Linked DNA regions of Homo sapiens: regions 1, 2 and 3 are each linked to region 4. The links come from fine-mapping of genetic effects on gene expression. A gene starts in region 4. Each other region holds a variant in brackets. All regions are shown on one strand. Distances are between the middles of the regions. Region 1 has its middle 66 kb from the start of PROK2. Region 2 has its middle 39 kb from the start of PROK2. Region 3 overlaps LINC00877 (long intergenic non-protein coding RNA 877). Region 4 holds the start of GPR27 (G protein-coupled receptor 27).

Evidence for each region. PIP is the estimated chance that this variant, and not a neighbour inherited with it, causes the effect.
Region 1: its variant is the best candidate, but not a certain one, in a credible set for the expression of GPR27 in whole blood (TOPMed, PIP 0.85).
Region 2: its variant is the best candidate, but not a certain one, in a credible set for the expression of GPR27 in subcutaneous fat (FUSION, PIP 0.69).
Region 3: its variant is the best candidate, but not a certain one, in a credible set for the expression of GPR27 in substantia nigra (GTEx, PIP 0.81).

What each region holds. Positions count from the first base shown.
Region 1 is chr3:71,846,934-71,854,803 of GRCh38, forward strand. No RefSeq gene overlaps it. Among named protein-coding and RNA genes, the nearest start is that of PROK2, 66 kb to the left of the region's middle. The variant T/C (reference allele first, on the strand shown) is at 3,889.
Region 2 is chr3:71,820,345-71,828,214 of GRCh38, forward strand. It overlaps the pseudogene RN7SL271P. Among named protein-coding and RNA genes, the nearest start is that of PROK2, 39 kb to the left of the region's middle. The variant C/T (reference allele first, on the strand shown) is at 3,168.
Region 3 is chr3:72,069,918-72,077,787 of GRCh38, forward strand. The region is part of intron 2 of LINC00877 (long intergenic non-protein coding RNA 877); the gene reads right to left. Among named protein-coding and RNA genes, the nearest start is that of LINC00877, 27 kb to the right of the region's middle. The variant T/G (reference allele first, on the strand shown) is at 3,957.
Region 4 is chr3:71,750,314-71,758,183 of GRCh38, forward strand. GPR27 (G protein-coupled receptor 27) reads left to right here and starts at 3,542. Exons shown (of 1, transcript NM_018971.3): 1 at 3,542-6,183. The coding sequence starts at 3,737. The coding sequence ends at 4,864. It also overlaps a transcript of EIF4E3 not described here.

The DNA.
Region 1 (7,870 bases), 97 kb after region 4:
CTCAGGTGATCCTCCCACCTCAGTGTCTTGGGTAACTAGGACTACAACTACTGTCACACTGGGCTAATTTTGTTGTTGTTGTTGTTGTTGTATTTTTTGTAGAGACAGGGCATCACTATGTTGCCCAGGCTGGTCTTGAATTCCTGGGCTCAAGTGATCTGTCCACCTCAGCCGAGCCACTGTGTCTGGCCCACTCAGTATATTTTTATGTCATTGAATAGCTAAACCATATTCAAATTTCACCAATTAAGCTAAAAAGACCTTTATAACTGGCTTGTCCTCTCCAGAAATCCTCTCAAGAATCAAATCTGGCTGATATAGTCCTTATTTCTACCCAGTCTATCCTGATTTCCTTTTTGATGACATTGGCTTGTTGAGGACACTGGACTGGTTTTCCTGTGGAATATCTCACCTTCTAGATTTGTCTGATTGCTTCCTTACTGTGCCATGTAGCTGATTCCTGTACCCCTCCATCTCCTGCAAATGATAGGTTAGATCTAAAGGACTGATGGATTCAAGACAAGCATTTTTGGCTAGAATATACCATAAGGGATTCTGTATCTAGAACTACACTACTCAGTGTGGTAGCTACCAGCCACATGTACCCATTTAAATTTAAGCTTAAATAAATTAAAATGAAAAATTCAGTTCCTCAGTTGTATTAGCCACATTTCAAGTGCTCAATAGCCCCATGTGGCTAGTGGCTACCACTTAGACAGGGCAGATATGAAATATTTCTTTCATTGAAGAAAATTCTACTAGACATACTAACTAGAGAATGAGTCCATTTCTCCATCTCTTGAATCTGGGCATCACTATGCAACTTTGTTCAGCCAATAGGATACTAATAAACATCATGCAATCAGAGGCTCGGAAAATGCTTGTGTACCAGGGCTTTCCCTCTTTTGCTATTGAAACCTCGAGACCACCACGTGAAGGAGCTCAGGCCAGCCTACTGGAGGATGAGACACCACATGGAGCATGGCCCCAGCTAGTCCAGATGAGTTCCCAGAGATGTGAGTCAAGCCATCCTAGATCATCTCAACAGACCATGTGAAGGGAGGCCTCAGCCATCCAGCCATCTCTGCTAACTGCCAGACATTTGAGTGAGGTCATCTGGGATCCATCAGCCCCAGCTGGGCCACCAGCTGTCCGTAGAGACCAATAAATTTGGCCCAGACAGAAGAACCAACCAGCTGACCCACAGAGTAATAAAGAATAAGAAATGATTATTGTTTTTAGCCACTAGATTCTTTGAATGATTTGTTACTCAGCAATAAATAACTGACACATGATCAGAAAGGAATTTATATAATGTTACTTTGGTCCTATGTCTTGTTCTGTATCCCACTCACTTAATATATAAATCTTGCCTAAATCAATAATTTCATTAGGTTTTGCAAGATCAGGTTTTCAACCTTTATCGTTTCTTCTACGTTCATTAACTGGTGTTCTTTTGTAAAGTAGAGATTCTCTTCAACAGGTGGGCTAGTTGGCTATCCTGTCATATAGTTCCTACTGGAAAAGGCAAAATGTTTAATTTTTTTCCTTTAATGACCAACTAAAAAGTAAGGAGTGGTTTAATGGCCATCTCGTATAATGTCTTTTCAGGCTTTCTCTTTTTTTAGTATCTTTATGAAGTCACACATTTCATTTATTAAATACATTTTATCTATAATCATTATTTTATTAAATTTTATTGTGGTAAGAAAACAACATGAGATTTCTCATTTACAAATTAAAAATTTGTAAAAAAACCCACAAATTTGTAAGTGTTCAATACATTATTGTTGACTGGGGGCACCATGTTACACAGTAGATCTCTAGAGCTTATTCATCTTGCTTGACTGGAACTTTATGCCTGTTGTTGCCTCTGTCCCAGAGCTCCAGCTCCTGTCAACCACCATTCCGCTTTTTTAAATTTTAGTTTTTTGAGATGGGAGTCTCATTGTGTTGCCCAGGCTGGTCTTGAACTTCTGGGCTCAAGCGATCTTCCTGGCTCAGACTCCTGGATAGCTGGGATTACAGGCATGAGCCACTGTGTGATTCCATAAATTTGACTGCTTTAGGTACTTCAAATATGTGGAATCATGCAATATGTTGCTTTCTGTGACTGCTTTACTTAGCATAATATTCTCATAAAGTTCAGCTATGTTGTCACATATAGTAGAAATTTCTTCTTTTTTAACTTTGAATAATATTCCACTGTGTGGATATACCACATTTCACTATTAATTTTCTCATGAACATTTAGTTTTTTCCATATCTTGGCTATTATGAATAACCATTGTATATGGTATAAGGATCCAATTTCATTCTTTAGCAGATGGATAGCCAGTTTCCCATCATTTATTAGAGACTGTCCTTTCCCCATTGTATATCTTGATACCCTTATTGAAGACCAGTTGACCATGTATTATGCACGGATTTATTTCTGGGCTATTTGCTCTATTGGTCCATATGTCTGTCTTTATGCCAGTATAGACATATATACTATACTGTTTTCATTACTGTAGCTTTGCAATATATTCTGAAATTGGGAAGTATTATGCTTCCAGCTTTGGTCTTCTTTCCCAAGATTGATTTTGAATATTCCTTCCTGTGGTCTTTTATGGTTCCATATGAATTATAGAATTCTGTTTTTGTAAAATATGTCATTAGGATTTTGATATTGTATTGAATTTGTAGATCACTTTGGAAAGTATGAACATTTTAACAATACAGTAGTTCCCCCAACAATTGTCTGCAGGTTTGCTTCCTATGGTTTCAGTTATCCACAGTCAACCACATTCTGAAAATATTCAATGAAAAATTACAGAAATAATTCATTAGTTTTCAATTTTGTGCCATTCTGAGCAGTGTGATGAAATCTCATGTTATGTTGCTCTGTCCTACCTGAGACATGAATCATCCCTTTGTCCAGCATATCCATCTTATATATGCCACCCACCCATTAATCACTTAGCAGTCATCTCAGTTATGAGATTAAAAAACATAGTATATTTAGGTTTCAGTACTATCTGTGGTATGAGGCATCCACCAGAGGCCTTGGAATGTATCCCCCATGGATAAAGGGGGACTTTTATATTAAGTCTTCTAAATGATGAACATGGATGTCTTTCCATTTGTTTGTGTCTTGTTTAACTTCTTTCATCAATGTTTTGTAGTTTTCAGCATTCAAGTCTTTCACCCCCTTAGTTAAGTTTATTCCAGTATTTTACTTTTTTGGTGCTATTGTTAGTACGATTATTTTCCTAATTTCCTTTTCAGGTAGCTCATTGTTAGTGTATAGATATGCAACTGATTTTGATATGTTGGTTTTGTGTCCTGCTACTTTACTGAATTTATTTATTATTAATAGTTCTAAAGGATTTTCTAATGGAGTCTTTAGGGTTTTCTATATATAACTTCATGTCATCTGCAAACAGGGACAATTTTACTTCTTCCTTTCCAATTCAAATGCCTTTTATTTCTTGTTCTTCTTAATCGTTATTCTTTTTGATGCTCAGTTGACCCATCTGTAACCAGAAGAAGCCCCTTCATACTGCCTTCTAAGTTATTTTGACACAAATCTACTAATCCTGGAAATTTACTTGCTCTCTGGTAGAACAAGCCGCCTCCGGCTCACCAAGTATCTTCTTTGCTTCAGACTCGCCATTTCTCTAAGGAGTGCCAGGTCCTTTAAGAAGGATTTTCTTCTATTGAAGAAAATCCAGGTACTGTGGTGTTCATTTCTACTGAGGTGACATGACTTGCAGGCCATTCCATTTATAGAAATATAATTTGGTATAAGGACTTCCTTTCCCAGGCTCCTCATTTTGCTCTTTGTTCTCAAATTAGCTCACAGCAGTTCTCACTCAAGGTGCAACCCTCTCCTGTGTTTGGTCA[T/C]TGGGAGATTTGCAGTTTGTAGGAAATTTCAGCATTCTGCTTTCCTTCCTGTTGCACCATGGTTGATTTCATGCCAGTTCTGCTACCTTGGGGTTTGAGGTTTTCTAAAATCTCTTAGTTTTGCTAAAGATGTTGATGTTGTCCATGAGTTTTGTCTTTTCTTATTCATGATGTTCTGTGTGCTTTTCAGAAACTGTAGTAGAACAATTGAAAACCGAGTGCTACAATCCCTATACTTAATCCTCAATGCGTGGGCAAGTGACCCAGGCCAGGTTCATCAGAATGGTTCATCCTCCCGGTCATGGTTATTAGTCAGAGAAAGGCACTATTCAATCAAAAGCCATGTGGTCCTTTTGCTGGAACTGTTGGGTTAGAGGAGCCTAATTCTTCCCGTGGTCTTTTGTGGTTCCATATGAATTATAGAATTCATATGAAAGCCTGGAATTGCTGATAGCTAATGGAGAGACCCTGACTGACTGAGCCTGAAGCCAGCATAGAGAAGAGAATGGAAAGGTGAAAAGAGATAAACTGCTGAGGACTTCATTTGAGCATCTGGGTCTGGCATTCCCTGGAGCCAGACCAAACCTAGGTTTTTCACTTATGTAATTTTAAAAATTCCTTTTGGTTAACTAAAATAATTAGGATGAAGTGTTTATCCCAGCAAGTGGCACACAGTAAGCCCCCAATATATGTTATCATTGTTATTTTTGAAACCAATTTGAGTTGCGTTTCTATCATTTGCAACTACAATAATAATGACAACTAAGAAAATAATACCAAAGATTTTTGAGAAGTGTGCTAGGTACTTTACATATTACTTCACTAAATCCTCACTTCAAGCCATGAGGTAAGTATTCTTATTCACATTTTATAGAGTTGAAAAGGAACTGAAGCTTCAAGAAGCTTAAGTACTTTGGTCACAGAGCTAGTAAGCTGAGATTTCAACCTTAGCATTTAGTGCCTCAAATCACTTAAAAATTATTTGTGATTTTTAAAATAATTTAAAAATATAGGCACTTAATTGAAATCAGCCAGAAAATCACCTATAACATTATGCTTTGTCAAGAGATATGTCTGTGTGTTTAGAGTCTACGCTTTGTTAATGGCTCATGAAGTTGGAAGCTGCGCTGATTTTCCCAATAGTGCACTGTAATGGCTTTATACCAGATTTTATAACCAAATGCCCAATTTTACTTTGCAGAGCTCTTCATGTTGATTTCTTTGAAAACTGCCAATTCCAACAATTAGCAGAGTAGCTGAACAACTGAACATAGTGGGATAAAGAAGACCAGATTTCTAGGACAATGCCTTATTTATGAGAGGAAATTCTATTCAGCAGCCTCTCGCTTCCAAAGCAATGAAATTTCTTCTCCTAGACAAATAGAACAGCATGTTTCAAAATATGCACTCTTCACCATTTAATGGAAATTTCATGAAAGTGTTACAAATGGAATTAAATTACTATCCATTTTTCTTTTTAAATATGTTCAGTAATAAATAAGTTTAACCAAAGTGGTGTTATCATTATACATTCATTTTAACCCCATTTCTTTTTTTTTTTTTTTTTTTTTTTTGAGACGGAGTCTCGCTCTGTCGCCCAGGCTGGAGTGCAGTGGCGGGATCTCGGCTCACTGCAAGCTCCGCCTCCCGGGTTCACGCCATTCTCCTGCCTCAGCCTCCCAAGTAGCTGGGACTACAGGCGCCCGCCACTACGCCCGGCTAATTTTTTGTATTTTTAGTAGAGACGGGGTTTCACCGTTTTAGCCGGGATGGTCTCGATCTCCTGACCTCGTGATCCGCCCGCCTCGGCCTCCCAAAGTGCTGGCATTACAGGCGTGAGCCACCGCGCCCGGCCTTAACCCCATTTCTTTATGGCACCTTTGTAATAATCATTCCATTAATAAGCTCTAATGCTTTTCTACTTCCTTCAATGGAAAAAAAAAACAGTAAAAGGAAAAAGAAAAAGAATGAAAATACTCTGTCCCATCAACATCTAATTGGAACTTCTCTGGGGAAAGATTTATTTTTTAAGTACGATTATATAGCTTTTAATGTCTAGGATAATTCTCTTAAGTTTACAGCCAGCCTGTGTCTGGAAAAGTAATTAAAATAATACTATGAGTTAGGTACTATTGTTGTCCCCATTTTACAAATAAGAAATCACAGGCTCAGAGAAGTTAAATGAGCTGAGAAGCAGCACACAGCTAGTCAGTGAAAGGATATAAACCTAGATGATTAAACATTTATGCTTGCCGTTTCTACTTTTTCTCTTCTAATGAGTTTATTGAAGACTTGGGAGTTGGAAAGGATAACTCACATCTGCTCCAGGAATTGCCACTTCCAGAGCCTACTGTCCTGAGCTTATCCTCGGGGACTTACCTGCTTCCCAGGAGACCTCCACAAGCCAAGGATACAGCTAAGCCACCCGCCGAGAGATCAAGGTCTCCCATACGGAGGAGAAAAGTTTTCCCTAGCTTCTTATCATTCCCAGGTTGACTTCTCAGTCCCTAGAATGACAGACAGTGCTAACATCCAATTCCAAAGAGGGAGGCCCACCACCGTACCACCTGGTCTGCTCTCAGAATCCTGTTCCATATGGAACGCAGCAGGTCAGATGCTTGGTGCCAGGCATGGTAAAATGGAAAAATGCTGAAGGCTGTGTCTGTTGGGCATGTGCCATCTTATAGAAATGGAAAGTAGATTCCAAACATTCAATAATCTCATGTTACGGTTCATGAGTACCTTAGAATCAACTGAATTTTCACTTTTCATCTATTGTAGGGGATAGGTGTTAGAAGGATCCACGAGGATGGCTTCCACCTTCCAGCAGTGGTCGGCAATCCCATGACTGGAATTGGTCCCTATTGATCTTCGGTGGCATTTTGTCCAAGGTCACTGCTTACCTCCAATCTGATCCTTATTTTGGAGGCAGTGCAGCACAGAGGAAAGAACTAGGCACTGGTATCTCAGAGATTGGGAATGGAATCCCCATTCTGTTTCTCACTAGCTGTATGGTCTTGAGCAAGAAGCTTTCACATTCAGATCTTCAGCTGCCTCATCTAATATCCAATAGTGATAGTGAAGAATAAAGGAGACAATATATGGAGATTATTTAGCACATGCCTGGCACACAGTGGGTATCTTAGAAAGAGTAGCTTTTGTGTCTTCAACTCAGCTTTTAGAGAGCATTCATGTTTTACTGATCCATTTCCTACTGCCCTCCTCGGTAGCCATGAACCTAGCATGTGCCTTAATATGTGTTCAGTAAATATTTGCTGAATGATGAATACGCGAATAAATGAATGAATATGAAAACTGTCTATGATGTCTAGAGGGACATTTGAGCAATCTCATTTTTTAGTCGTGGAGAGCAATATCTGCTATTTGGCAGATAGCATTATCAGGAATCATCAGAAAGCATGCAGAGTTGTGAAATGTCAATGCACCCATCCTTTGAAGAGTCGGCACTTCTGCCAAAGCTGCACAGAGCAGAAAGCTAGCTGGAAATGAACAGTGGCCTTCTCCATCACGCTTCAGCCCCAGGAGAGCAATGGGGGTTGCCTTGGGAGCAAGTACCCCATCACTGAATGACTAGACAGCTAGCAGCACCCAGGAGGGCCCATGGGCTGCTGGGCATTGGGTTGAGAGCTGGGAAACAGAGCTGAAAGACAAAACTCCTGCTTTTGAAAGTTCACAGCTGCTGAAGAAGACAGCTAAAGAGAATCCAGGTTGTGGGGTGAGCAGGGTGGATACAGGATGTGATTTGAGAGGTGGCAAGACCCCCTTGCCTAACAGTCTCTCCTTATCTGGTACCAGGCCTGGAATCCCCCATTCTGCAGACTCTGGGGCTAGATCAAGCTGTGTCTAAATTCTTCTCTGTATCCATCCTTGGCCCCTTACAGCCCAAGTTCCTTGATCCTTTGGTGACAATGGTCACTTTTCACATAACTTTCAGTTTCAGTCTGAACAAAAGGCAAGATTC
Region 2 (7,870 bases), 70 kb after region 4:
TCAATGGTGGATTGAATTTTAAAAATGTAGTACATATACACTAATGGAGTACTACATAGTCATAGAAAAGTACAAAATCACATCCTTTGCAGCAACACGGATGCAGCTGGAGGTCATTATCTTAAGTGAATTAATGCAGAAACAGAAAACCGAATATTGCATCTTCTCACTTATAAGTGGGAGCTAATCCTTGAGTACGCATAGACATAAAAATGGGAACAGTGGACGCTGGAGACTCCAAAAGGGGGGAGGGAGCAGGGAGTGAGGGGACAAGGGCTGAAAAACTTCCTACTGGGTACTATGCGGGGTAATGGGACCAATTGAAGCCCAAATCTCAGCATCACGCATATATACCCTTGTAGCAATATACCCTTGTAACAAACCTGCACATTTATCCCAATCCAAAATAAAAATTTAAACTTTTTTTTTTTTTTGGAAAGACAAGGTCTTAGTATTTTGCCCAGGCTAGTCCGAAGCTCCTGACCTCAAGCAATCCTCCTACCTCGGCCTCCCAAAATGCTGGGATTAAGTGTGTGTCACCACGCCCAGCCTGAATCAGACCTTTTGATCTTCCCATTGTTTGCCTTCATTCTTGACTCTGGCCATAGATCTGCTGGCTACTGACTCCTCTCATCTAAATTGGAGTCTCGAACAGATTTCTTTTAAATATGTTCAACCAATATGCTAACATACTGAAAGCTATTAGGTAATCAGATGCTTTTGCTTTCAAATAGGAAAGGTATCTCCTGGAAGATAATGTAAATGATTGAACAAACTTAAGTCATCTATATTATCACCATACTTTATCATCTTTATTGCAGATGCTGAAGTCTTTATTCCTGTAACTATTAGGGGAAAAATATCATCTGAGCCAGATCCATTCCTTTACTTGGTCTCGCTCTAAGCCTACGTGACAGGATGGAGAGTGATCTCATTTTAGAAAACATTGAATGAAATGGAGCATTCTTTAAATGAGACACATACACACAGTTCAGGGCTTCTCAGTCTCAGCACTATTGACATTTTGGCTGAATAATTGTTTGTTGTGGGTGCCTGTTCTGTGCGTTGCAGGATGTTTAGCAGCATCCTTGGCCTCTACCCACCAGATACAAATAGCACTGTCCTTCCCTCTCCTGCTAGCTGTGACAACCAAAAATGTCTCCAGACATTGCCAAAATCCTCCTCACCCCCACTGAGAACCACTGACACAAATCAAGAAGAAAGTTTTGCCATTGTATTTTCTGAATGCCTTTCCCGAGTTTAGCGGGGGGAAAGTCGATTTCTTTATGGGAATTTTTTTGTGTGGGGCTGTTTTACAAAATCCAAACTATAAATAACAGACGTAAGTGAGAAAAGATTGAACGTTTATTACCCAAGGCCATATAAATTCAATAATAAATTATGGCTTTCTCTAAAAATATGAGAAGTCTTTTCAAAGTCATTAGTTCTAATCATAAATGAATTTAGCAGCATTTCTTTAAATTTTGCCCTCTTGTAATGAACTCTGATACATTCATGGAACTGGTTGGTAAATAAAGAGATAGAAAGGTCTAATTTGCTGGTTCATTAAGCTAGCTTATTTCAAGACACCGTGCATATTGCTTTGAATTTCATATTTCTGAGCAGTGGAGACAATAGTAGTATCCATCTCTAATGTAGTGTGGCAGACAATTAGGAGCTCAAATGTAGTAAATCTCATTTCATCAGAGATATACACAGTGATTATTATTTTATTGCCAAATACTGTCAGCATTACATTTCTTCAACAGCTATTGTGATACCTGATTCACATGCTTAAATTTGCATTAAACACTGTGCTAACAACAATAATAATTTGGGCTGTGTTTTCTTACGTGACATTATTCTGTTCTTTTCCGTGTGTGTTCACCCAATGCTAGTTTCAAGGGTGCAAAGTTTTATGAAGACTTGATACAGGAAAGGCAGCTGTAGCTCTAAGGAAAGGCCATGGTTTTGGGGTCAAAAACAAGCACTAATGCTGCCCCTTTCAATTAAGGTAATCTTGGGAGGTTACTTCACTTAAAATAGAACTAGAAGAAAGAATCTTATTTTATTGTTTTACGTTGTCTTTGTCAGATTTTTAAAACTGCAAAAACATTGCTTTTTGAAACAAATGAAATTATACAACAAAGAAGCTGATTATTCACTCTTCCATCTCCCTTGACCATCCCTATAGCCTATTTCTCTTCAAGTAGGTAATACTAATGATTTAGTATATATCTACCTTTCATTAATCTTCCATGAAGCCCTGCAAGTAATTTTACCTAAATATAATCTTTCCTTTTTTAAGTAAAAAATTGAATTGATTTATACATATTTTTCTCTAACTTGCTTTTCTGAGTTTAGATCTAAGCCATTATTTTAAATAGTGGCATAGTATTTCATACTATGGGTATATAACATTTGTTCAACATTTCCCTCCTGATTGACCCCATGTTCTTTCCAGTCCCTGGGCACGCTACAAACAATGATGTAATCAATGTCATCAGGCCTACAGCGCTGGGGCTAGATTCTTTCCTGCAATTAGAAATGGGAAACAGGGACATTTCACCCAGTTGAATACCTCTGGGGCTCAGTTTCCGCATTTGCATTGTGAGAATCACATCTGTCCTACTTCCTTCACACATTGATACATGGATGGTTGGAGCCAGCAGATTAAAATAAAGTGATGGTTTGAGGATCAGAAGGGCCCTCCATAAAAACCCCACTCTAGCCAAGCTGCAGCTTTGGAAAGCTACCTGCTTTTCTCTGCTTTCACAATCTCAAATAATATTTGTACACTTGCTGTATGCTCTTCAGCTCTGGAACATTTTTTTCAGCAGTTAAAACCACTTTTTCAGTGGATAATTCACTATTTCAGTGATCGGTATTTAGTTTACAAAGAGTCGTGTCAGGTAATACTCCAAGGCAGCGCCTGACTTCTGAAAGCCAGAGTAGACGAAGCATGTGCATGTGAGTGAGTGTGTGTGTGTGCATGAGAGGATAAGTGTGTGTACGGGGGAGAGAGATAGAGTGCACTCAGTAAATTCACTCAGTGTGAAAGTCATCCAGTAACACGGTCACAAGCAAGAGCGAGCTCTGGAAACTGCCCATATGGTGAAGGGATATATAAATATTTAATATATTTAATATTTTACCTGGTACCATAG[C/T]CATTTTAAATTATTCTACTAATATTATCTAATAATATGTGGTATACCATTTCTCTCCAAGAAATTAAAGTTCTGAAAAATACATCCATACTTACATCTTATTGCTTCTTCAAACCACACTTGTGTTCATGAAGCAGGAAAGGGTCAACGTGCAATGACTCATTATTTCACATTTACCTGACAGGCTGCAAAAGTGCACATGATATTATAGTTCAAGGGCATTTAGGTCAGAGGGTATGCTGAGGGCTATGACCCACCGGGTTATGAAATGAGCTGAAATATCAAGACTGACATTTCTTAAGTGAAATAGAATAGAATGGAAAATGTCAGAGTACAACACTCCAAAATATGATAGTTGTTGCTTCATGAATATTCTGTTTCAGAAACATAAATATGTGTAGGTATGTCGTATGTGCTAGATCTCAATGTTATTAAAGCTATTAAACACATTATAAGGTACCTATTCTAGGCTGGGCACGGTGGCTCATGCCTGTAATCCCAGCACTTTGGGAAGCCTAGGTGGGTGGATCACTTGAGGTCAAGAGTTCAAGACCACCCTGGCCAGCCTAGTGAAAGCCTGTCTCTACTTAAAAAAAAAAAAAAAGAAAAAGAAAAAAGAAATCAGCAGGGTGTGGTGGTGCACACCTGTAGTCTCAGCTACTCAGGAGGCTGAAACAGGAGAATTGCTAGAACCTGGGAGGTGGAGCTTGAGGTGAGCCAAGATCATGCCACTGCACTCCAGCCTGGGCGACAGATTGGGACTCTCTCTAAAAAGAAGTACCCATTCTAGTGACACTTTGCTTATGAGATCCAAGACAGTCAACCACTTTGCTATCTAGTACAGCTGCCTCTCTGTGTACTATAAAGATGTCGCCAGATAAACCTTCCTTCCTTCTTCAAATGTGTCTTTTCCCCCATTATTTCTTTCTGGAAAGTGGTCTTTGATGCAATGGAGTATGGAAACAGGAGGCTAACACATAACCACACATTTATGTTAAACCTCAAGAGGTGGTCAGTGCTGGTGAGATAAAAATCTGTTTGCTTTGGGGAGGCTTTGCTCTGAAGAATTGGGTGAGGCCTGGAAGATGGAATCCCTTCACCCAAGACAGAGCAGGAACCCTGGAGGGAGGGAGGGGGTGGAGAAAAACAGGTGGGTGGGCAGATGGCGAGAGTAGGAAGAAAAAGGAGCCCACAGAAGAGGAAGAACTCCCAAATGCCCATTAGGAGGTGATTTAAGAGATAAAATAATATTTTGTTCCATCTTCTGAGTTGCTGTAAATCTTTCTGTTACTCCATCGACTCAATAAATCTTTATTGAACATTTTCTACATGTCAGGTTATACTTCCTGGACATACCAGGAATGACCAGAACAGACAGACGTTCCTACATTACGGGACTTACAATCTAGGAGAGTGGGGGAGGACAGACAGATATTAAACAAGTGAAGCATGCCGAATGTCAGGTGGCAGTATAGGTGATGGGAAAAAAAAGTCAAGCTGGGAAGGAGATAGGTGTGTGTGGCATGGGGGCTGGGGGTGAGGGTTTGCAATTTTATAGACAGTCGTTGTGGTCAGTGAAGAAAAGGTAACTGTGAAGCTGAGACTTGGAGAAAGCATAGAAGCCCAGATATCAGGGGAAGAACACTTCATGCAGGAGTGTCCCTGGGTGACCCAGCAGAGATGCAGGGGACAGTAGAGGAAGCTGGGGTCGCGGGACATTGTGGGTGGTGGTGGGGTCCCATAGTGCACAGAACCTTGAAGGTCATTGTGGAGACTTTGCATTTTGCTCCAGATGAAATGAGATGCCATAGGAGGTTTGGAGCCAGGGGTGACATGCTCTGACTTACATTTTAAAAAGACTACTTTGGGTGCTGTGTGGGGGACAGTACCTGCATGCTCTCTCAGACGCGACAGATGTGACTAAGGCACAACAGAGAGCAACACAGATGTATGTGAAGCAGGAATTCAAGCAGTGAGGGAAACGTCAAAGTCGGTTACAGGTCAATGTCCACTGCTCCCATCCTATCATATCATCAACTCAATCATGAACAGGAAGTGGGAGTTTCTCCATGACCAGCAGCAGGAGCCTAATCTACAAGGGTCAATGGAGAACCAGGCCATGTCTCCCTTCAGACTCTGGAATCGGAGTCTCCCCTTCCATGAGCTCTGGCTGACATGGACAGTCCCCCTCCCTCGCACTCGTGCTCTCTGCCATTGCTGCATTCTTTGCTTCCTGGGCCTGTTTCTGAGGCCAGGCCTCAGGTCATGTAACACCAAGGAATACAAGGTCCCTGTAGCTGGGCTATTGTCATGGTCAACCCAAAAAGCAACTCTGTGCTTTTCTGCTGCCAACTTATCTGCATGGCCATGGCTATGCCATTGCACATTTCCTGCGGCCGCTCACTTCTAGGAGTGGTAGGAGTCCTTTACTCTGTCTCTTCCCTGGGCAGAAAAGTAAAGAGAAACTGCCCCAAAGCACTCAGTTCCACTCTCCTGAGCAATCTTTGCAGGCTGACAAAAGGCCATGAGTCTTTCTCTTTCTCTACTGTAGGCCTCTCCCTACCTTGCCCTGTTAGATAGGTGGGTGGATGGGTGGGTGCAACAGAAATGAGTATCCTAAATGTAGTTCCCCTTTCTCTGTCTAGTTAATGGAGGAGGGAGGGCAAAATTAACCCCAAAGGCAACCACTCTGCTGGCCTTTCTTCAACTCTGGAATACATTCTCCCAGTATTCAGACCTTTCAGCAGCAGGAAGACCACCCTCTCTCCCATCCTGACTGTGCCCAGTACTTGTTCTCAGCCTCCCGCAACATATGTGTGTTGTCAGAGAACAGAATGTTAGCTCCAGCTGTCTCAGGTCCAGACCAGCAGGTTATATAGAAATTATCATAAAATAGGGGCTTAAAACCTAGATGACGGGTTGATGGGTGCAGCAAACCACCATGGCACATGTATACCTATGTAACAAACCTGTGTGTTCTGCACATGTATCCCAGTACTTAAAGTATAATAATTTTAAAAAAGAAATTATAAAATAAGCGAATCAGTTGCTCTCAGAAAGGGATGTATGTTGACCATACAGATTAGTACCTATAAATCCTAAATTACCTTCCTTAACATAAAAATTGTCTCCTGCTCAGAAAGAACTTTGTAAAACCCCACTAACCTGCTGCTTTCAGATACTCAGACCACTGAGGCCAGTGGATTATCAGTTTTCCAGGAAGTGTCTGGCATGGAATCCTGGTTCTGTTGAATGAGCTCCTTTAGGTGTGATGGTGAAGGAAAAAAAAATTAAGACCTCTTGGCATTCATAAAATCTGCAGTGTAGAAATTCACATACCTTTTTCCGTTACATTACATTGCTACAACACAACTCTACCTTGCAGTGTATCAAAAATGATTGGAGGACTTTCCTATCTTTACCTTTCTTCCCCTAGTCTTTGTGCTTGCAGACAGAATGCCATCTCCTCTCTAGTGGCAGCCAAAGGATGTTGGGGCAAACAGTCCCTCATTAATTAATTAATTGAGCAGTTGATTGTCAATTTGTATCTTTTTGTAAGTGTTTAATGTTTGACTTTTTTTCTAATATTCTTTCTTTTCAAAAAAATTCTAACATACAAGAATCTACCTCCCTCCTAGACCTAATTAACTCTGAACATTTTGCTAGCTGGGTGTGGTGGCACATACCTGTAGTCCTAGCTACTCGAGAGGCTGAAGCAGGATTGCTTGAACCCAGGAATTCTGGGCTGTAGTGTGTTATGTCAATTGGGTGTCCACACTAAGTTTGACATCCGTATGGTGACCTCTTGAAAGCAGGCAACAGCAGGTTACCTAAGGAGGGGTAAACCGGCCCAGCTCAGAAACCAAGCAGTTAAAAACTCTCATGCTGATCAGCAGCAGGATAGCATCTGTGAATAGGCACCGCACTCCAGCCTGGGCAATATAGTGAAACCCCAACTCAAAGCAAAATTTTGTCATATTTGTTTCATGTGAAATTTTTTCCCAAAGAAACAAAGCATTGATTCAGTGGAAGCTTCTTTTGTACTCTTCTCCCTCCTTCTTCAAAGGTGCATTGAAGCAGATATTCTTCTAATTTATGTTTTCGTGTTTTATTACATATTTGTGTAAGATGAAGCAATATACGATGTATTTTTGAACTTTATTATGAAAAAATTAAACATAGACAAAATTACAGGGAATAATATATAAACTTTGTTTGGGGATTTTTAGCATCTGGGTAAATGATATCAAATTCCACATATCTTCCTGCAATTTGATTTTATATACCTTATCATGTTTCTGAGGTGGATCTATATTGACACATTAGATTCATTTCATTCATTTTAACTTCTCTGGAGTATTTCATTGTAGGAATGACTATAACTTATTTTTATTTTATTTTATTTTATTTTATTGAGACAGAGTCTCACTCTGTGGCCCAGGCTGGAGTGCAGTGGTGCAATCTTGGCTCACTGCAACCTCTGCCTCCCAGGTTCAAGCAATTCTCCTGCCTCAGCCTCCTGAGTGGCTAGGATTACAGGCATCTGCCACCACGCCTGACTAATTTTTGTGTTTTTAGTAGAGACGGGGTTTCACCATGTTGGCCAGACTGGTCTCGAACTCCTGACCTCAAGTGATCCGCCCACGTAGGCCTCCAAAAGTGCTGGGATTACAGGCGTGAGTCACCGCATCCGGCCCCAGACC
Region 3 (7,870 bases), 320 kb after region 4:
TAAATCTCTTAATATATTCTACTGGTTCTTTTTCTGTGGTGGAGCCCTGTGTGATATAACTCTCCAGTTACACCATTTATTTTCTTAGTGCTCAGGTTGCCTGAGTTAGCTAGTAAAAATACAATATTGCAGCTAGGATGCAATACTTGGGATGTACATACACTAAAAAAATTTTGATGTTTATCTGAAATTCAGATTTAACTGGACATCCTGTATTTCAGGGGTTCCCAACTCCCAGTAAGGAACTGGGCCTCACAGCAGGAGGTGAACAGCGGGTGAGTGAGCAAAGCTCCATCTGTGTTTACAGCCACTCCCCATCGCTTGCTTTACCGCCTGAGCTCCACCTCCTGTCAGATCAGCAGTGGCATTAGATTCTCATAGAAGCACGAACCCTATTGAGAACTGCGTATGTGAGGGATCTAGGTTGCTGGCTCCTTATGAGAATCTAACGCCTGATGATCTGTCACTGTCTCCCATCACCTCAGTTGGGACTGTCTAGTTGCAGGAAAACAAGCTTAGGGCTCCCACTGATTCTGCATTATGGTGAGTTGTAGAATGTACAATATAATCATAATAGAAATAAAGTGCACAGTAAATGTAATGCACTTGAATGATCCCAAAACCATCCCCCTGGGCCCTCACCCTTGGTCTGTGGAAAAATTGTCTTCCACCAAACTGCTCCCTGGTGCCAAAAACTTTGGGGACTGCAGCTGTATTTGATCTGGTGACCCTACGTAGTATTTATCACAATTTTAATTTACCTTATTATTATTATTATTATTGAGACAAAGTCTCACTCTGCCACTCAGGGTGGAGTGCAGTGGCATGATCTTGGCTCACTGCAACCTCTGCCTCCTGGGTTCAAGCAATTCTCATGCCTCAGCCTACCAAGTAGCTGAGATTTGGCTAATATTTTGTATTTTTGGTAGAGGAAGGGGTTTTACCATGTTGGCCATGCAGGTCTCGAACTCCTGGCTTCAAGTGATCCACCCGTCTCGGCCTCCCAAAGTGCTGGGATTATAGGCGTAAGCCACCGCACCCAGCCTGAATTTACCTTACTTCTTGTCCATCTCCCCATCTAGTCTGGAGGTTCCATGAGGATGGGGACCTTATATGTCAATTTCATGGCTATATCCCATTTCCTGAAACAATGTCTGGAAATGAAAAGGTCTTTAGTAGATATTTATTAAGTGAATTAATAAATGAATATATTATGTCACCTGTACAGTTATGCTTTCTGCCTTGAGAGGCCCGAATCACCCTTCACATGCAGAAATTGGGTTTCTGTTTTTCAACAGTTGAATCAGTGCTTCAAACGATGGCATCCGAGTGTGTGGTCTGTTGGCTAAGGGTTCCATTTTTCACATTGCTGTTGTTGTCTGCCCAGTAGAGTGTTGGTTTGTGTGATTATTTGACTATTTTAGGAGCTCATTGCTCTTATTATTTTGTAAAAATGAACGAAAATGGAAAAGCAAAAGTGCTGATAGTGGTGATAAGATTCTTGTCTCATAAACTTAGTATAATCACACCGCAAAATAAATCACAAGACAAGCCAAATGCAGCAGATCTTCAGCCCTGATCAGAAGCGCATAGAACGCAGGCTGCCTGGCTGTCGAATCATGCAAGGAGAAAAAGGAGCAATAATAAGAACATGCGTGAAATCCTAAGGCTCTGTCGCTGAGGACTGGTTACAGTGGAATTAGAAATTTTTTTCTTTCAGCATCTGGAGGCAGTAATCACTTTTAACAAGTGAATCTATTGTTTGATTTGGGGCATTGGCTTTTTGTTCTGCCTGCAATTTAAGGCACAGCTCAAGTGTCACCTCTTCCCTGAAGACTTTCCAGCTCCTTTTCCCCCAGCCCCACCCCTGAGAACTATTTTTTTGTTTTTTCCCCTGTGCTCCCAGGAGTGTGTTGTTTGAAACCATTTTAAGTATGTGTTTTCACTCTCCTTTTAATTTTACTCACCTACTACAATTGTTTCCTCCTTTAAATAGCAAATTCCTTGAAAATAGGAAATGCTTTACACTCCCTTCCTGCAAATATCCCAAACTCCGTTATAGGGAGCTCAGTGCTAGCGTGGAAGTTAATGTGGACTTGATGTTAAAAGCCCGGGTTTAGAACCCAGCTCTGCCCTTTGAAAACTTTGTGCCCTTTGATATACAATTGCATTCCTCTCCAAGGCTCAGTTTCCTCACCTGTCAAATGGGAACACAACTGTCTACTGAGAGGTTTATATGGGTTACTATTGGGGAACAATTGGAACTGTAAAATGCCAGCTCCGTGGAAGGTCTTAATGATGTCTAAGCAGAAACAATGATCAAACATGTTGGTTGAATGAATGTCTTTGTTAGCTCGAAATCTCAAGAGTTGAAAAAGAATATCAAGATATCTCTATATAAGAATACAGAGTTTTTACATAGGCAAGAATGTCTCTGGATTCTGATGGAATAGGCCCCTCCACTCTAATCTCACCCTTCTACCAAGTAGGATTGAATCTATCTGCTCCTGAACAAATTCTGTCCCGACCTGGCCCAATGCCTTAAGCCTTCACCATTACTCCTGTAGGCTGATACATTCTGTTCATTGTCTCTGGGCTGAAATCAGTGGGCCTCCAGACAGGCTTAGTAGGTCAAGTTGGGGTGAAGAAAAAGCAATGCATTTGGGGCCTGGCGGCAAAGCCTTCTACAGCCCTGCCACATACCACCTACTTGACCCCCAACCTCAACATTCTGTAATTCAACCTTTCTTAGCTTCAGTTTTCTCATCTAGGAGTCATGCATGATAAGCACACCCTCTCTCACAAGATTACTAAGGCACAGTTTCTCAACCTCAGCACTATCAACATTCTGGTTAGATAATTCTGTGTGTGTGTGTGTGTGTGTGTGTGTGTGTGTGTGTGTGTGTGTATGTGTGTAGGGAGACTACCCTGTGCATTACAAGATGTTTATCAGCATCTCTATTCTCCAGCTACTAGATGCCAGTAGCACCTTCTACCGGTTGTGACAACCAAAAACATCTCCAAATATTTCCTGGGAAACAAAATTGCCCATAGTCAGGAAACACCACAGTAAGGATTAAAATCAGTAATTCCTATGTGAGCCTTTGTAAATCTGAGAGCCCAATACAAGTGTTAGTTTTAATTATTTTGCTCTGATTTCAGAGAAAATTAAATTTCCCTCTTCTGTGATTCCTTAGCACTTAAAAAATAATAACAGCTAGCAATAATTGAATACTTGTTATGTGGTAGGCTCTGGTATTGTCTTATTTCGCACATAAGAAAACTAAGCCTCTGAGTGGCATGCCCAAGATTACAAGAGTAAGCAGTCAAGGCAAAATTTGAACCCACAATGTTTGTTCAATGAGTCTAAACCCATGCTCTCAACTTGCATTAGTTATTTATTGCTGTATAACAAATTATCACAACTTAGCAGCTTAAAACAGCATACATTTGTTTTCTCACTGTATCTGTAGGTAAGGAATCTGGGCACAACTTAGGAGGTCCTCTGAATAACTACAACCAAGGTTTTGGCCAGGACTGAGGTCTCATTTGAATGCTCAACTGAGCTACTTTCCAGTTCACATGGCTGTTGGCAGAATCCAGTTGTTTTTAGGTTGTAAGACAGAGCCTCAGGTCCCTACTTGCTGTCAGCTGGAGGTCACCCTCAGTTCCTTGCCAGTTGAGCCTCACTGTAGGATAGCTCACAACATGGCAACTTGCTTCAACAAGTCTAGCAAAGGAGAGAGACTGTTAGCAATACGGACATTGCAATTTTATGTAACATAATCATGGAAGTGACACGTTATCACCTTTGCTATATTCTATTGGTTAAAAGCAAGTTGCTTGGCCAACCCACCATCACACAGTGGGATCACAGGGGCAGACATACCAGGAGGTGAGGATCCTTGAGGCCATCTAAGAGTCAGCCTACCAATCCATGCTGTCCTGCTTCCTGC[T/G]TAGCCCACTTATTACAAATGTGTAAGCCTCTTTCAGCTACTAGCCCAAGTGCTGTTTTTAGGGTTTTGTTTTTGCTTTGTAGATTGTCTGCATCTTCGCAGGCTGCAATAACAAAATACCATAGAGTAAATAGCTTAAACAACAGACAATTCTTTCTCACATTTCTGGAGGCTGGGAGATTCAGGATCAAGGTGCCTACTGATTCATTTTTCTGATGAGGGCTCTCTTTCTGGCTTGCAGACAGACACCTTCTTGCTGTGTCTTCAGACAGCAGAGAGAGAGAGAGAGAGAGAGAGAGAGAGAGAGAGAGCTCACCCTTCCTCCCCTTGTAACGCCATGAATCTTGTGATGAGGGTTCTATGCTCATGACCTCATCTAAATCTAATTATCTCCCAAAGGTCCCATCCCCAAATACCAGAGAGAGGGATGTTGATTCTTCTAGGATAGGCTATATATATATATAGGATATATATATATATATATATAGAGAGAGAGGATATATATATATATATAGGATATATATATATTTAGGATATATATATATATAGGATATATATATATTTAGGATATATATATATAGGATATATATATATAGGATATATATATATATAGGATATATATATTTAGGATATATATATAGGATATATATATATAGGATATATATATAGGATATATATATAGGATATATATATAGGATATATATATAGGATATATATATAGGATATATATATAGGATATATATATATAGGATATATATATATAGGATATATATATATAGGATATATATATAGGATATATATATATAGGATATATATATATAGGATATATATATATAGGATATATATATATAGGATATATATATATATAGGATATATATATATAGGATATATATATATAGAGAGAGAGGATATATATATATATATATAGAGAGAGAGAGAGAGAGAGGATATATATATATATATATGAGACAGGGTCTTGCTCTGTCACCCACATTGGAGTGCAGTGGCATGATCACTGCTCACTGCAACCTCAACCTCCCTGGCTCAGGCAATCCTTCCCAATTCAGCCTCCTGAGTAGCTGGGACTACAGATACGCACCACCATGCCTGGCTAGTTTTTATATTTTGTGTAGAGATGAGATTTTGCCATGTTGCCCAGGCTGGTCTTGAACTTTTGAGCTCAAGTGATCTACTTGCCTTAGCCTCTGAAAGTGCTAGGATTACAGGTGTGAGCCACCCCATCCAGCCTGGAATAAGCATCTTTTTTATATACCTATCTTGGAACCTAAGCCAAGGCTTGGTACTTGGTAGGTCTCAGAAACTGTAGGCTGAGTGAATGAAAAACACATGCATAGGAACAGAGGAAAAAGTTCCAAGAGATTGGGACCCAGGACTGGTAAACATTAAGGGGGGTTGTGGAGGCACTCTGAAATAAGGAAAATGGAAGTCTGCCTGAGTCAAGCAATATGACAGAAACATGGGCTTTGAAGTTCAATAAACTACACTGTTGAATCAATCTCTGCAAGCAGCATTTTCTCTCTTGCAAGTGGGAATATTGTTGATACCTGCCTCAAAGTGGTGTTGTGAGGACTGGAGAAGGTAATGCATGAAAGTCCCTCACATAGTTTATGTTTAGATCAGTGGATGGCAAAATCTGTATTAGTCTCTTTTGCTGCTATAACAAATGACCACTATCGGAAGAACCAGCCCCAATATTTCAATGTAGGTTCTTTTCTATTTCCCCTAAGTGTTGGCCAGTCTGCGAAATAAAGAGAAAGAGTACAAAAGAGAGAAATTTTATAGCTGGGCCTCCGGGGGTGACATCACATGTCGGCAGGTTCCATGATGCCCCTTGAGCCACAAAACTGCAAGTTTTTATTAAGGACTTCAAAAGGGGAGGGGGTACGAATAGGGAGTGGGTCACAGAGATCACATGCTTCCTAGGGCAATAAAAGATCACAAGACAAGTGGCAGAGCAAGATCACAAGGCCAGGGCGAAATCAGAATTACTGATGAGGTTCCATGTCCTGCTGGGCACACATTGTCATTGATAAACATGTTAACAGGAAACAAGGTTAGAGAGCAGACAACTTGTCTGACTAGAATTTGCCAGGCTGGAATTTCCTAATCCTAGCAAGCCTGAGGGCACTGCAGGAGACCAGGGCGTATTTCATCCCTTATCTTCAACCGCATAAGACAGACACTCCCAGAGCGGCCATTTTACAGACCTTCCCCTGGGAATACATTCCTTTCCCAGGTTTATTCCTTGCTGGGAAAAGAATTCCGCGATATTTCTCCTATTCGCCTTCTGCAAGAAGAGAAATATGACTCTGTTCTGCCTGGCCCCACAGGCAGTCAGATCTTATGGTTATCTCCCTTGTTCCCTGAAAATCACTGTTATCCTGTTCTTTTTTAGGATGCCCAGATTTCATATTGTTCAAACACACATGTTTTACAAACAATTTGTGCAGTTAATGCAATTATCACAGGGTCCTGAGGTGACATATATCTTCAGTTTACGAAGATGATGGGATTAAGAGATTAAAGTAAAGACAGGCATAGGAAATTATAAGAGTATTGATTGGGGAAGTGATAAATGTCTGTGAAATCTTCACAATTTATGTTCTTCTGCCACAGCTTCAGCCGGTCCCTCCATTTGGGGTCCCTGACTTCCCACAGCAGACGACAAACACAGTGGGCTTAAAACAATGTGAATTTATTATCCTATAGTTCTGGAATAAAAATACTGGGCTAAAATCAAGGTGTCAGCCTATCTTCCTTTTGGAGGCTCTAGGGGAAAATCTGCTTCCTTGCTTTGTCCAACTTCTAGAGACTGCCGGCATTCCTTGGCTTGTGGTCCCTTCTTCCAGCTTCAAGGCCAGAAGTGTGGCATCTTCTCTTTTCTCTGACCTCAGCTTCCATCCTTACATCTTCTCTCTCTGATTCTGATGCTTCTGCTGATCTCTCACAAGGACTCTTCTGATTACATTGGGCCCACCAGGATAACCTCCCCATCTCAAGACCCTCAACATAATCACATCTGCAGAATTCCTTTTACAGTGGAAAGTAATATATTCACAGGTTCCAGGGATTAGGATATGGACATCTTTGGAGGGCCATTATTATTATTATTATTTAATTTAAAAAGAGACAGTATCTCACTATATTGCCCAGGCTGGTCTTGAACTCCTGGGCTCGAGTGATCCTCTTTCCTCAGCCTACCAAAGTGTTGGGATTACAGGTGTGAGCCACCGTGCTGGCCTGGAGGCCATTGTTCAACCTGCAAAAATATGCTGTCTGTTCCCAAAGTTTTATGTCTATCTCAACTGCATTGACCCATTCTTAAAAACTCCCAACCCATTACAGCAATCAACCTGAATCCAAAATCTCATCTAAGTCTTATCAGGTCAAAAGTTTCATTTCTCATCACATAAATCATCGAATATAGGCATGGGTGAAGCTCTGGGTATAGTCCAGTGTGTGGCACAATTTCTCTCTATCTGTGGACCTATGAAGCTAGCAAAGAAATTATCTGCTCCCAAAATACAAAATGAAACACACTCCACCAGGGTAACAGCACTCCCATTCAAAACGAGAGAAGAAGGAAAGAAAAAAAAGAGTCCCTGGTCCCAAATGTTTTCTAAATCCAACCAGAAAAACTCCATTAGGTTTCAAGGCATGGCTCTCAGCTCTGCCTTCAGAGCCTATAAGGTCTGCTCTCACAGTCATCTTTCCTTCTTCATAAAGGGTAATACTTGTTTGCAGCTGTAGTTTCACCCACCTGTTTCCTGTCTGTAGAATTTTGGTGATCTGACAACCTTCTTTCATTTTGTTCTCTCTGTCCCTTTCAGGTCAAGCTGGCAGTGTTTTGGGGCACATACCATTCTTAAAAGCCTTGTGAGTTTCCTGCATAT
Region 4 (7,870 bases):
TTGTCGAACACCATGTGCTCATTAGAATAAAAAATATGAAGATTTAAAGTGGAAGGTAGTGACCTAGGAGTGGGAGGACCTGGGTTCTCCCTCCCACTCAGCTATTCATGAGCTTCTCTGTTTGTAAAATTCAAGTGTTAGGATTAGATGGTTTTGAAAAATCCTTCCCTCTCGAAAGGGGTTATAATTCTGTGCCCGGGAGCATCAGTAGTTTGTGTATGTTAGTTTACTGCTTTTATAAACTCAAAAGCTTTCTTCACAGTTATAACAAAGAGGCAGTGTTTGTGGAGATCATGAGGATGGACTCTAAACACAGAGTTCCTCAGCTGGGTGTGGTGGCTCACGCCTGTAATCCCAGCACTTTGGGAGGCTGAGGTGGGAGGATCACTTGAGCCCAGGAGTTCTAGACCAGCCTGGGAAACATAGGGAGACCCCATCTCTACAAATAATTGGTTTTTTTTTTTTTTTGAGACGGAGTCTCGCTCTGTTGCCCAGGCTGAAGTGCAGTGACACGATTTCGGCTCACTGCAAGCTCCGCCTCCCGGGTTCATGCCATTCTCCTGCCTCAGCCTCCTGAGTAGCTGGGACTACAGGCGCCTGCCACCATGCCCAGCTAATTTTTTGCATTTTAATAGAGACGGGGTTTCACCGTGTTAGCCAGGATAGTCTCGATCTCCTGACCTCATGATCCACCCGCCTCGGCCTCCCAAAGTGCTGGGATTACAGGTGTGAGCCACCGCATCCGGCCTCTACAAATAATTTTTTAAAAATTAGCGGGGCATGGTGGTATAAGCCTGTGGTCCCAGCTACTCAGGAGGCTGAGATAGGAGGACGGCCTGAGCCTGGGAGGTTGAGGCTGCAGTGAGCCATGATGATGCCACTGACTCCAGCCTAGGTGACAGAGTGAGACCCTGTTTCAAAATAAATAAAGTCAGACTTCCAGCTCTTACACTTACTTGAAAGTAAGTGTAAAGTAAGTGTAAGTGGTGAAAGCGTGAACAAATTAACCCTTCTGCCTCCTCTGCAAAATGAAGACAGTAACAGCACATACCACATCTGGCCATTACAATGATTACATTAAATAACACATGTCGAGAATTTAGCACAATGCTTGGCATACGGCAAGTGCTCAGTAAAAGGTGGCTGCCATTAGTATTACCATAAAGCAACCAGAGTTGGTGAATTTGTGTGGGTTATTAAGAAGGCATTCCCTCCTCTGGGCAGAGGCAGCCCAAGCGCTAAGGGCCACAGCAAGGCAGGATCGAATTCTCTACAGCCATGGGTCTAACTTTAAACAAAGAAATAAGAAACCATTTCCTACCCTCCCTTGCTCAAGTGCTCACTCTCAATTGATAGCCAATGATATGTTTAAGTGTTTGTTTATAATGTAGGGCTTCTAGAAAGCTCTTCCTACTTAGATGGCTGGAATATTGCTGCTCTTTTCCCTTTTCTTCTTTCTGCCTGGAATGAAGAAATGATGGCTGGGGCGTCGGCAGCCTACTGTGATCATGAGGGAAGGGCTAAAAGATTTTCAGAGATTCAGTCCTTGAGCCAATAAATCAATGTCAGCAACTACTGACCTCCAAACTTCTTCTTTCACGAGGAAAATAAACTCATGTACACGTTTTTTGCTACTAGTATCAAACTGCAATTCCTAACCCATACACCCTCCAAAATCTATTTTCTATCAACATACATTTACAGATGTGCCTGGTCAGCCACTTGCTGCTGGCCACTTAGGAGTCCCAAGTCAGGTGCTCAATAGTTGATTTTCTTGAAAAATCACTTAGATTTTTAAAAAAATATCCAAACTGTCCCCAAGGGCCTTACTATTCAAAGTAAGGTCAGCAGACCAACAGCATTAGTCTCACCCCGGAGCTTGTTAGAAATGCAGAACCTCCGGCCCCATTCCAGAACTACTAAATCAGAATCTTCATTTTAACAGGGTCCCCAGTGATTTCTGCACATAGTGAAGTTTGAGGCTCTGGACTAGGTTTACCGGCTCTGCTCTGTCATCCCTCCTCAACACTGCTGCCAGAATAATGTTCCTGGAGCACACCTAGTCATGTCGCTCCCCTTCTCAAAAGATTTCAAGGGCTCCTGACTGCCTGCAGACTAAAGTTTCGACTTCTTAGCCTGATCATTAAGGCCCTCTATGATCTTGCACTATCCTGAAAATGCCCATCAAGGTGCCTGCCTTGCATGTAATCAGTAGGCAACAAATAATTTTCTGCACAGAAGAAAAAACAAATGAGTGTGGGTGAGAAACAATGCGTTGCTTAATTCTGGCTTTACCATGCTAAGCACTGGGGATGCAGTGGTACCAAAAACCAGGCATGATCCCTTGCCTTCAAAGAGCTTAGAGCCTAGTTAGAAGAGCATGATTTTTAAAAAGAAATGAAAGTATATAATGACAAATTATAAGTGCTAAGAAGGAAATGACTAGAGGGCAGGGATACAGAGTAAAACAGACGGGTTAGAAGGAGGCCCTACGGAGAGGGAGCCTGTTGTGGGGCTGGTCCAGGCAGAGGTACCAGCACATGCAAGGTCCTGCGAGACAAATGCGGTGTGTCTGAGAATCATAACAGGGGCTGCCCTTTCAGGCTTACCCAGAAAATAGATATCCTGGGAGGAAGGTGGCATAGGGTTCACCTTCCAAGTCACTTAAAGATGAAATGCTGCATTTCTTTTCCCTGATATAGGTCCTTCACCGGGATCACGGATGAGTTAGCGAGCAGGGGATGCTGCGGAGTCGCTGTGAGTCCAGCACTGGAAATCAGACCAAGCGAAATTTGAATCCCAGCTCCGCTACTTCCCGGCTCTCAACTCCCTTGACCTCCAAGCCTCTGCTTCCTGAGGTATAAAGTGGGATTAAGGATGGCAACAACTTCGTGATTACTGTTGAGGGAGATAATGCTTGCCAAGCTCCCCAGCACACTGCCACCCACATCAGTGCGCACCTGAGTATCAGCGGTTTTAGGATTACGATGACTATTACTATCGTAAATTACTCCCAGCTTTCGGGCAGAAGGCTCATTCCAGATATTCCTGTCCCCTCTGAGGCCTCCCGACCCTGCCAGCCCAGGCAACCTCCCCCGCGCACGGCCACCGTGACCCCAGCGCGGGCGCCGCCGCCGGACCCCCGTTACCTGGGGCCAAACGCGACTTGTCGCCACCTTGCGTCCTGGGCCCTGCCTCCCTCCCGGCCGCCTCCCGACCCCGCGGCTGCTGCGGAGGCGCCCCCAGCCCAGCCGGGCCCAGGCGGTGCGGGATGCCTCGGCGGGGCTGGCGGCGGCGGCCGCGCTGCGCGCTCCGGCGGAGGGGAGGGGGCTCCGCGGCGGCGGCGGCGGCGGCGGCAGCGGCGGCAGCGGCGGCGGCGGGCCCGGCGGGGGGCAGAGCCAAGAGGCGCGGCGGCAGCAGCGGAGGAGTAGGAGGAGACGGAGGAGGATGCGGGGGGCTGCGGACGGTGGCGAGGCCCTGTCCGCAGTGAAGCCCGCGGCGCCTAGGGCGCAGGGAGTGGCCGCCTCCTCCTGCGCGCACCATTCCTGAGATGGCGGCGGCGGCACAGCGGCGGCTCGGGGAGCCCAGGAGGGGCCGGCCGGGAGCGGGCTGAGCCCCGCAGGACGGGGAGCTCGCCCAGGGCCGGCGGAGCGGCGGAGCTCGGGCCGGGCGGCCTGCGGGAGCGGCGAGGCAGGGGACGGCCCCGGGGCGGAGCGCACGGCCTGGTGAGGCCGCGATGGCGAACGCGAGCGAGCCGGGTGGCAGCGGCGGCGGCGAGGCGGCCGCCCTGGGCCTCAAGCTGGCCACGCTCAGCCTGCTGCTGTGCGTGAGCCTAGCGGGCAACGTGCTGTTCGCGCTGCTGATCGTGCGGGAGCGCAGCCTGCACCGCGCCCCGTACTACCTGCTGCTCGACCTGTGCCTGGCCGACGGGCTGCGCGCGCTCGCCTGCCTCCCGGCCGTCATGCTGGCGGCGCGGCGTGCGGCGGCCGCGGCGGGGGCGCCGCCGGGCGCGCTGGGCTGCAAGCTGCTCGCCTTCCTGGCCGCGCTCTTCTGCTTCCACGCCGCCTTCCTGCTGCTGGGCGTGGGCGTCACCCGCTACCTGGCCATCGCGCACCACCGCTTCTATGCAGAGCGCCTGGCCGGCTGGCCGTGCGCCGCCATGCTGGTGTGCGCCGCCTGGGCGCTGGCGCTGGCCGCGGCCTTCCCGCCAGTGCTGGACGGCGGTGGCGACGACGAGGACGCGCCGTGCGCCCTGGAGCAGCGGCCCGACGGCGCCCCCGGCGCGCTGGGCTTCCTGCTGCTGCTGGCCGTGGTGGTGGGCGCCACGCACCTCGTCTACCTCCGCCTGCTCTTCTTCATCCACGACCGCCGCAAGATGCGGCCCGCGCGCCTGGTGCCCGCCGTCAGCCACGACTGGACCTTCCACGGCCCGGGCGCCACCGGCCAGGCGGCCGCCAACTGGACGGCGGGCTTCGGCCGCGGGCCCACGCCGCCCGCGCTTGTGGGCATCCGGCCCGCAGGGCCGGGCCGCGGCGCGCGCCGCCTCCTCGTGCTGGAAGAATTCAAGACGGAGAAGAGGCTGTGCAAGATGTTCTACGCCGTCACGCTGCTCTTCCTGCTCCTCTGGGGGCCCTACGTCGTGGCCAGCTACCTGCGGGTCCTGGTGCGGCCCGGCGCCGTCCCCCAGGCCTACCTGACGGCCTCCGTGTGGCTGACCTTCGCGCAGGCCGGCATCAACCCCGTCGTGTGCTTCCTCTTCAACAGGGAGCTGAGGGACTGCTTCAGGGCCCAGTTCCCCTGCTGCCAGAGCCCCCGGACCACCCAGGCGACCCATCCCTGCGACCTGAAAGGCATTGGTTTATGAGGGAGGCCCCGCCACATAGACCCCCAACCCAGCCTTTCCCTTTGGCTCGGACGGTGACGTTGTATCTTTTCCTTCTGGCCCCTGTTTAATTTTCTAAGCTGCCTTCAAAATGACTCGAAGTGGACAGACACTTGGATTGTACTGACTCCTTTGGGGGTGGGGTGGGTGAGGAGTAGGATGCTCAGCCCACTCCAGCTCCGCACATTCGTCCTCCTAACTCGACTTTCTTCCTGACAATAGGCCCTGCAGTCTTTTTGTAGCGGTACTGACGTCTTTTATTCCATGTGTGGTTCCTTTTTTTCTTTTTCTATAAAGGCTGTACTAATTTTCTTCATGCAACGTTTCCTAAAGACCATGGCCAGTTTTCTACAGAAGCTATTTTTGACAACCTCAAGTGGCATTACATTTTGCAGTGAAGTAGAGGAACCTAGGGGGACTTCTTCACAAGTTAGATTTCTTGAGGATCTTCTGTTGGAAGCAGGAGAAAGTGGGGGGTGGGGGGAAGTTGTCCGAAATGCCCTCTGAATTGCCGGCTGCAGGGTCCTTGTGCTGCGCTGGTTCTTTGAAAGTCTCAGTGTTGATATTGAACTTAAAGAGCAGAGATGGAGATCAGTAGCAAGGCAGTCATTTTTTTAAAGCAGTAAGTAACAAGTAAGATTTGGTTCCCGGTTTACTTTCTGCTGCTAAAAACCACGTCAGTGACAACTGCTCTCTGTATTATAGCAATCTTGAATGGAAACATTTCTGTCAAGTTGTAAGTTTTAAAAGAGTAAAGTGTTTTGGTTAGTAATGATGTGGAGAAAAATACAGTATTGCATGTGTTCGTGTGTATAGATTGTGGTTCGAGGATTGGGAGGGCTCTGAGAAGCAGAGTACTACATCAAAATTGTTTTAAGTATTTTTTGCCAATAAAAAATTAATTTTATGGAAATGGCTTGTGCTTTGAGAAGCCCAGTTTTATTCTGTCTTATGAAACTAATTTCCACTTTGAAAATTGTTCTTCTGTTGTTTATGGTATAAATGAATGGAATATAATGATATCCTCCTTCTAGGAAACAAAGCATTTCCTTAAAATGTTTGCTAGGTTAAGCTGTGCTGTTCTACTGATGGTTGTTTTAAATTAATAATGAGAACTATAATTTAAATAATATTTCTTTGTTAGACATTATAATGTTAAACTGAAAGACTAAATTCTGCAAGTACTATATAATATTTTTGGCTTATAATGCTACATTTTTATTAATGTACCTTCCGTTTTGAGGATTTATATCTGTATTTCTCTTTGCATTATACAAATATACCAGTATTTTCATTCTGGAGTGGTTGTTTTGTTGTGGTGGTGGTGGTGTTTGAGGCTGTAATAATACATGCGTCGAAGTATGTTACATGCCTCTAAGTATGTTATGTAAGGATAACATGCTCTATGATCCTTTTAGCACGTGTTCTTCAGTTACAGGTTTCATAGTTTGACCATCAGCATATCCAAGAAAAGTGGAGGCTTAATTTAAAATGCAAGATAAAATCTGCGAAACTTTTCTTTAAAGGGAAGAAGCAGTAGACATATATACGGCTTTAAAACTGTTTTTTTATTTGGATGACAACATTTCAATGACTATTCGTTAAATGACATAAAAAAGCTTTTAAGTAAACATATCAAACTCAAGTACAAGCGATCATTTTGATAAAAGTACTAGGTAAAAGTGGGGGTGGTAGATTATATTGAAATTTAGCTGAGTATAATATAAACTATTAAATGTTCAGTCCAATGGGAATAAGTTATAAAAAGAGTGTGGCCAATTTAATTGATCTCTGGTAAATAGGCTGCATGATTTTATTTTGTTGTGGAAGTTAATCAGTCTGTGAAGACAGTCTCACACTTGGAAAATATGAGACAGTTACCCTATTTCTCCCCACATCATGAATCCAGGTTGGCCTCAATCATCCAAGGGCCACTGATCGGAAACCTCAGCCAACCCCAAGATAGAGGAGCCCAGAAGTACCTCTCTCCTCATCTAACCCTCCACCTGCCCAAGTGATCTCAGTTCCAAATAGAGGTCGAACCAGTCTACGATGGCTCATGCCTGTAACCCCAGAACTTTGGGAGGCCGAGGCAGGAGAATTGCTTGAGACCAGGAGTTTGAGGCCAGCCTAAGCAACATAGCGAGACCATGTCTCTACAAAAAATCAAAAAATTAGCTGGGTGTGGTAATGTGCACCTGTGGTCACAGCTACTGGGGAGGCTGAGGTGAGAGGATGGCTTAAGCCCATGAGGTCAAGGCTGCAGTGAGCCATGACTGTGCCATGGCACTGTAGCCTGGATGACAGAGCTCTCGAGACCCTGTCTCAAAAAAGCCCCCAAAACAGAGATCACCAAGTCTCTGTGATTTTCCCACCTGGCATGGCACAGGAACCAGCCCATCATGGCTGACTCCTGAGCCACTCCAGCTTTGGGCAGCAGCTCAGCTGCACCAGAGGTGACGTGTTGGCCTGACATAGCCTTGAATTCAAGGGATATTTTGTCATATGAGAATTCATAAGCCAGAGGTTCTCAAATTCTAACATTCATACAAATTAAGTGTCTGTGTGATCCAGAGTCTTATGAGGACATGTTGAGTTGGGTCCTGGGGAAAAGCATTTCAACAGGTTCCTCAGGTGGTTGGAGACAGACCTCCAGGACTTCGTTCAGACATGATTTACTTCAGACATGATGCGTTCAAACTTGGCTACCTGGGTTTTTTATTTTTATGTTTTAAAGTTCTGATTAGATGGGGGAAGGCAAGATTTCTAGTGAGTGTGCAGGTGAGAGTAGCAAGAAATAACAGCCAACTAAAGGAAACGAGAACCAAAAGAGCCAGAGAAACAAGCTATGTAGCAGAAAGTGGGGAGGTGCAAAGGGCCACCCCAACAGCTTTTAGGATTGGTGAATCTATTAACATGTACTTTGATAGTTAATTACATTAATCAAAAATTATAAAAAAAAAAAAAAGGTTAGTTGTGTCCACAGTA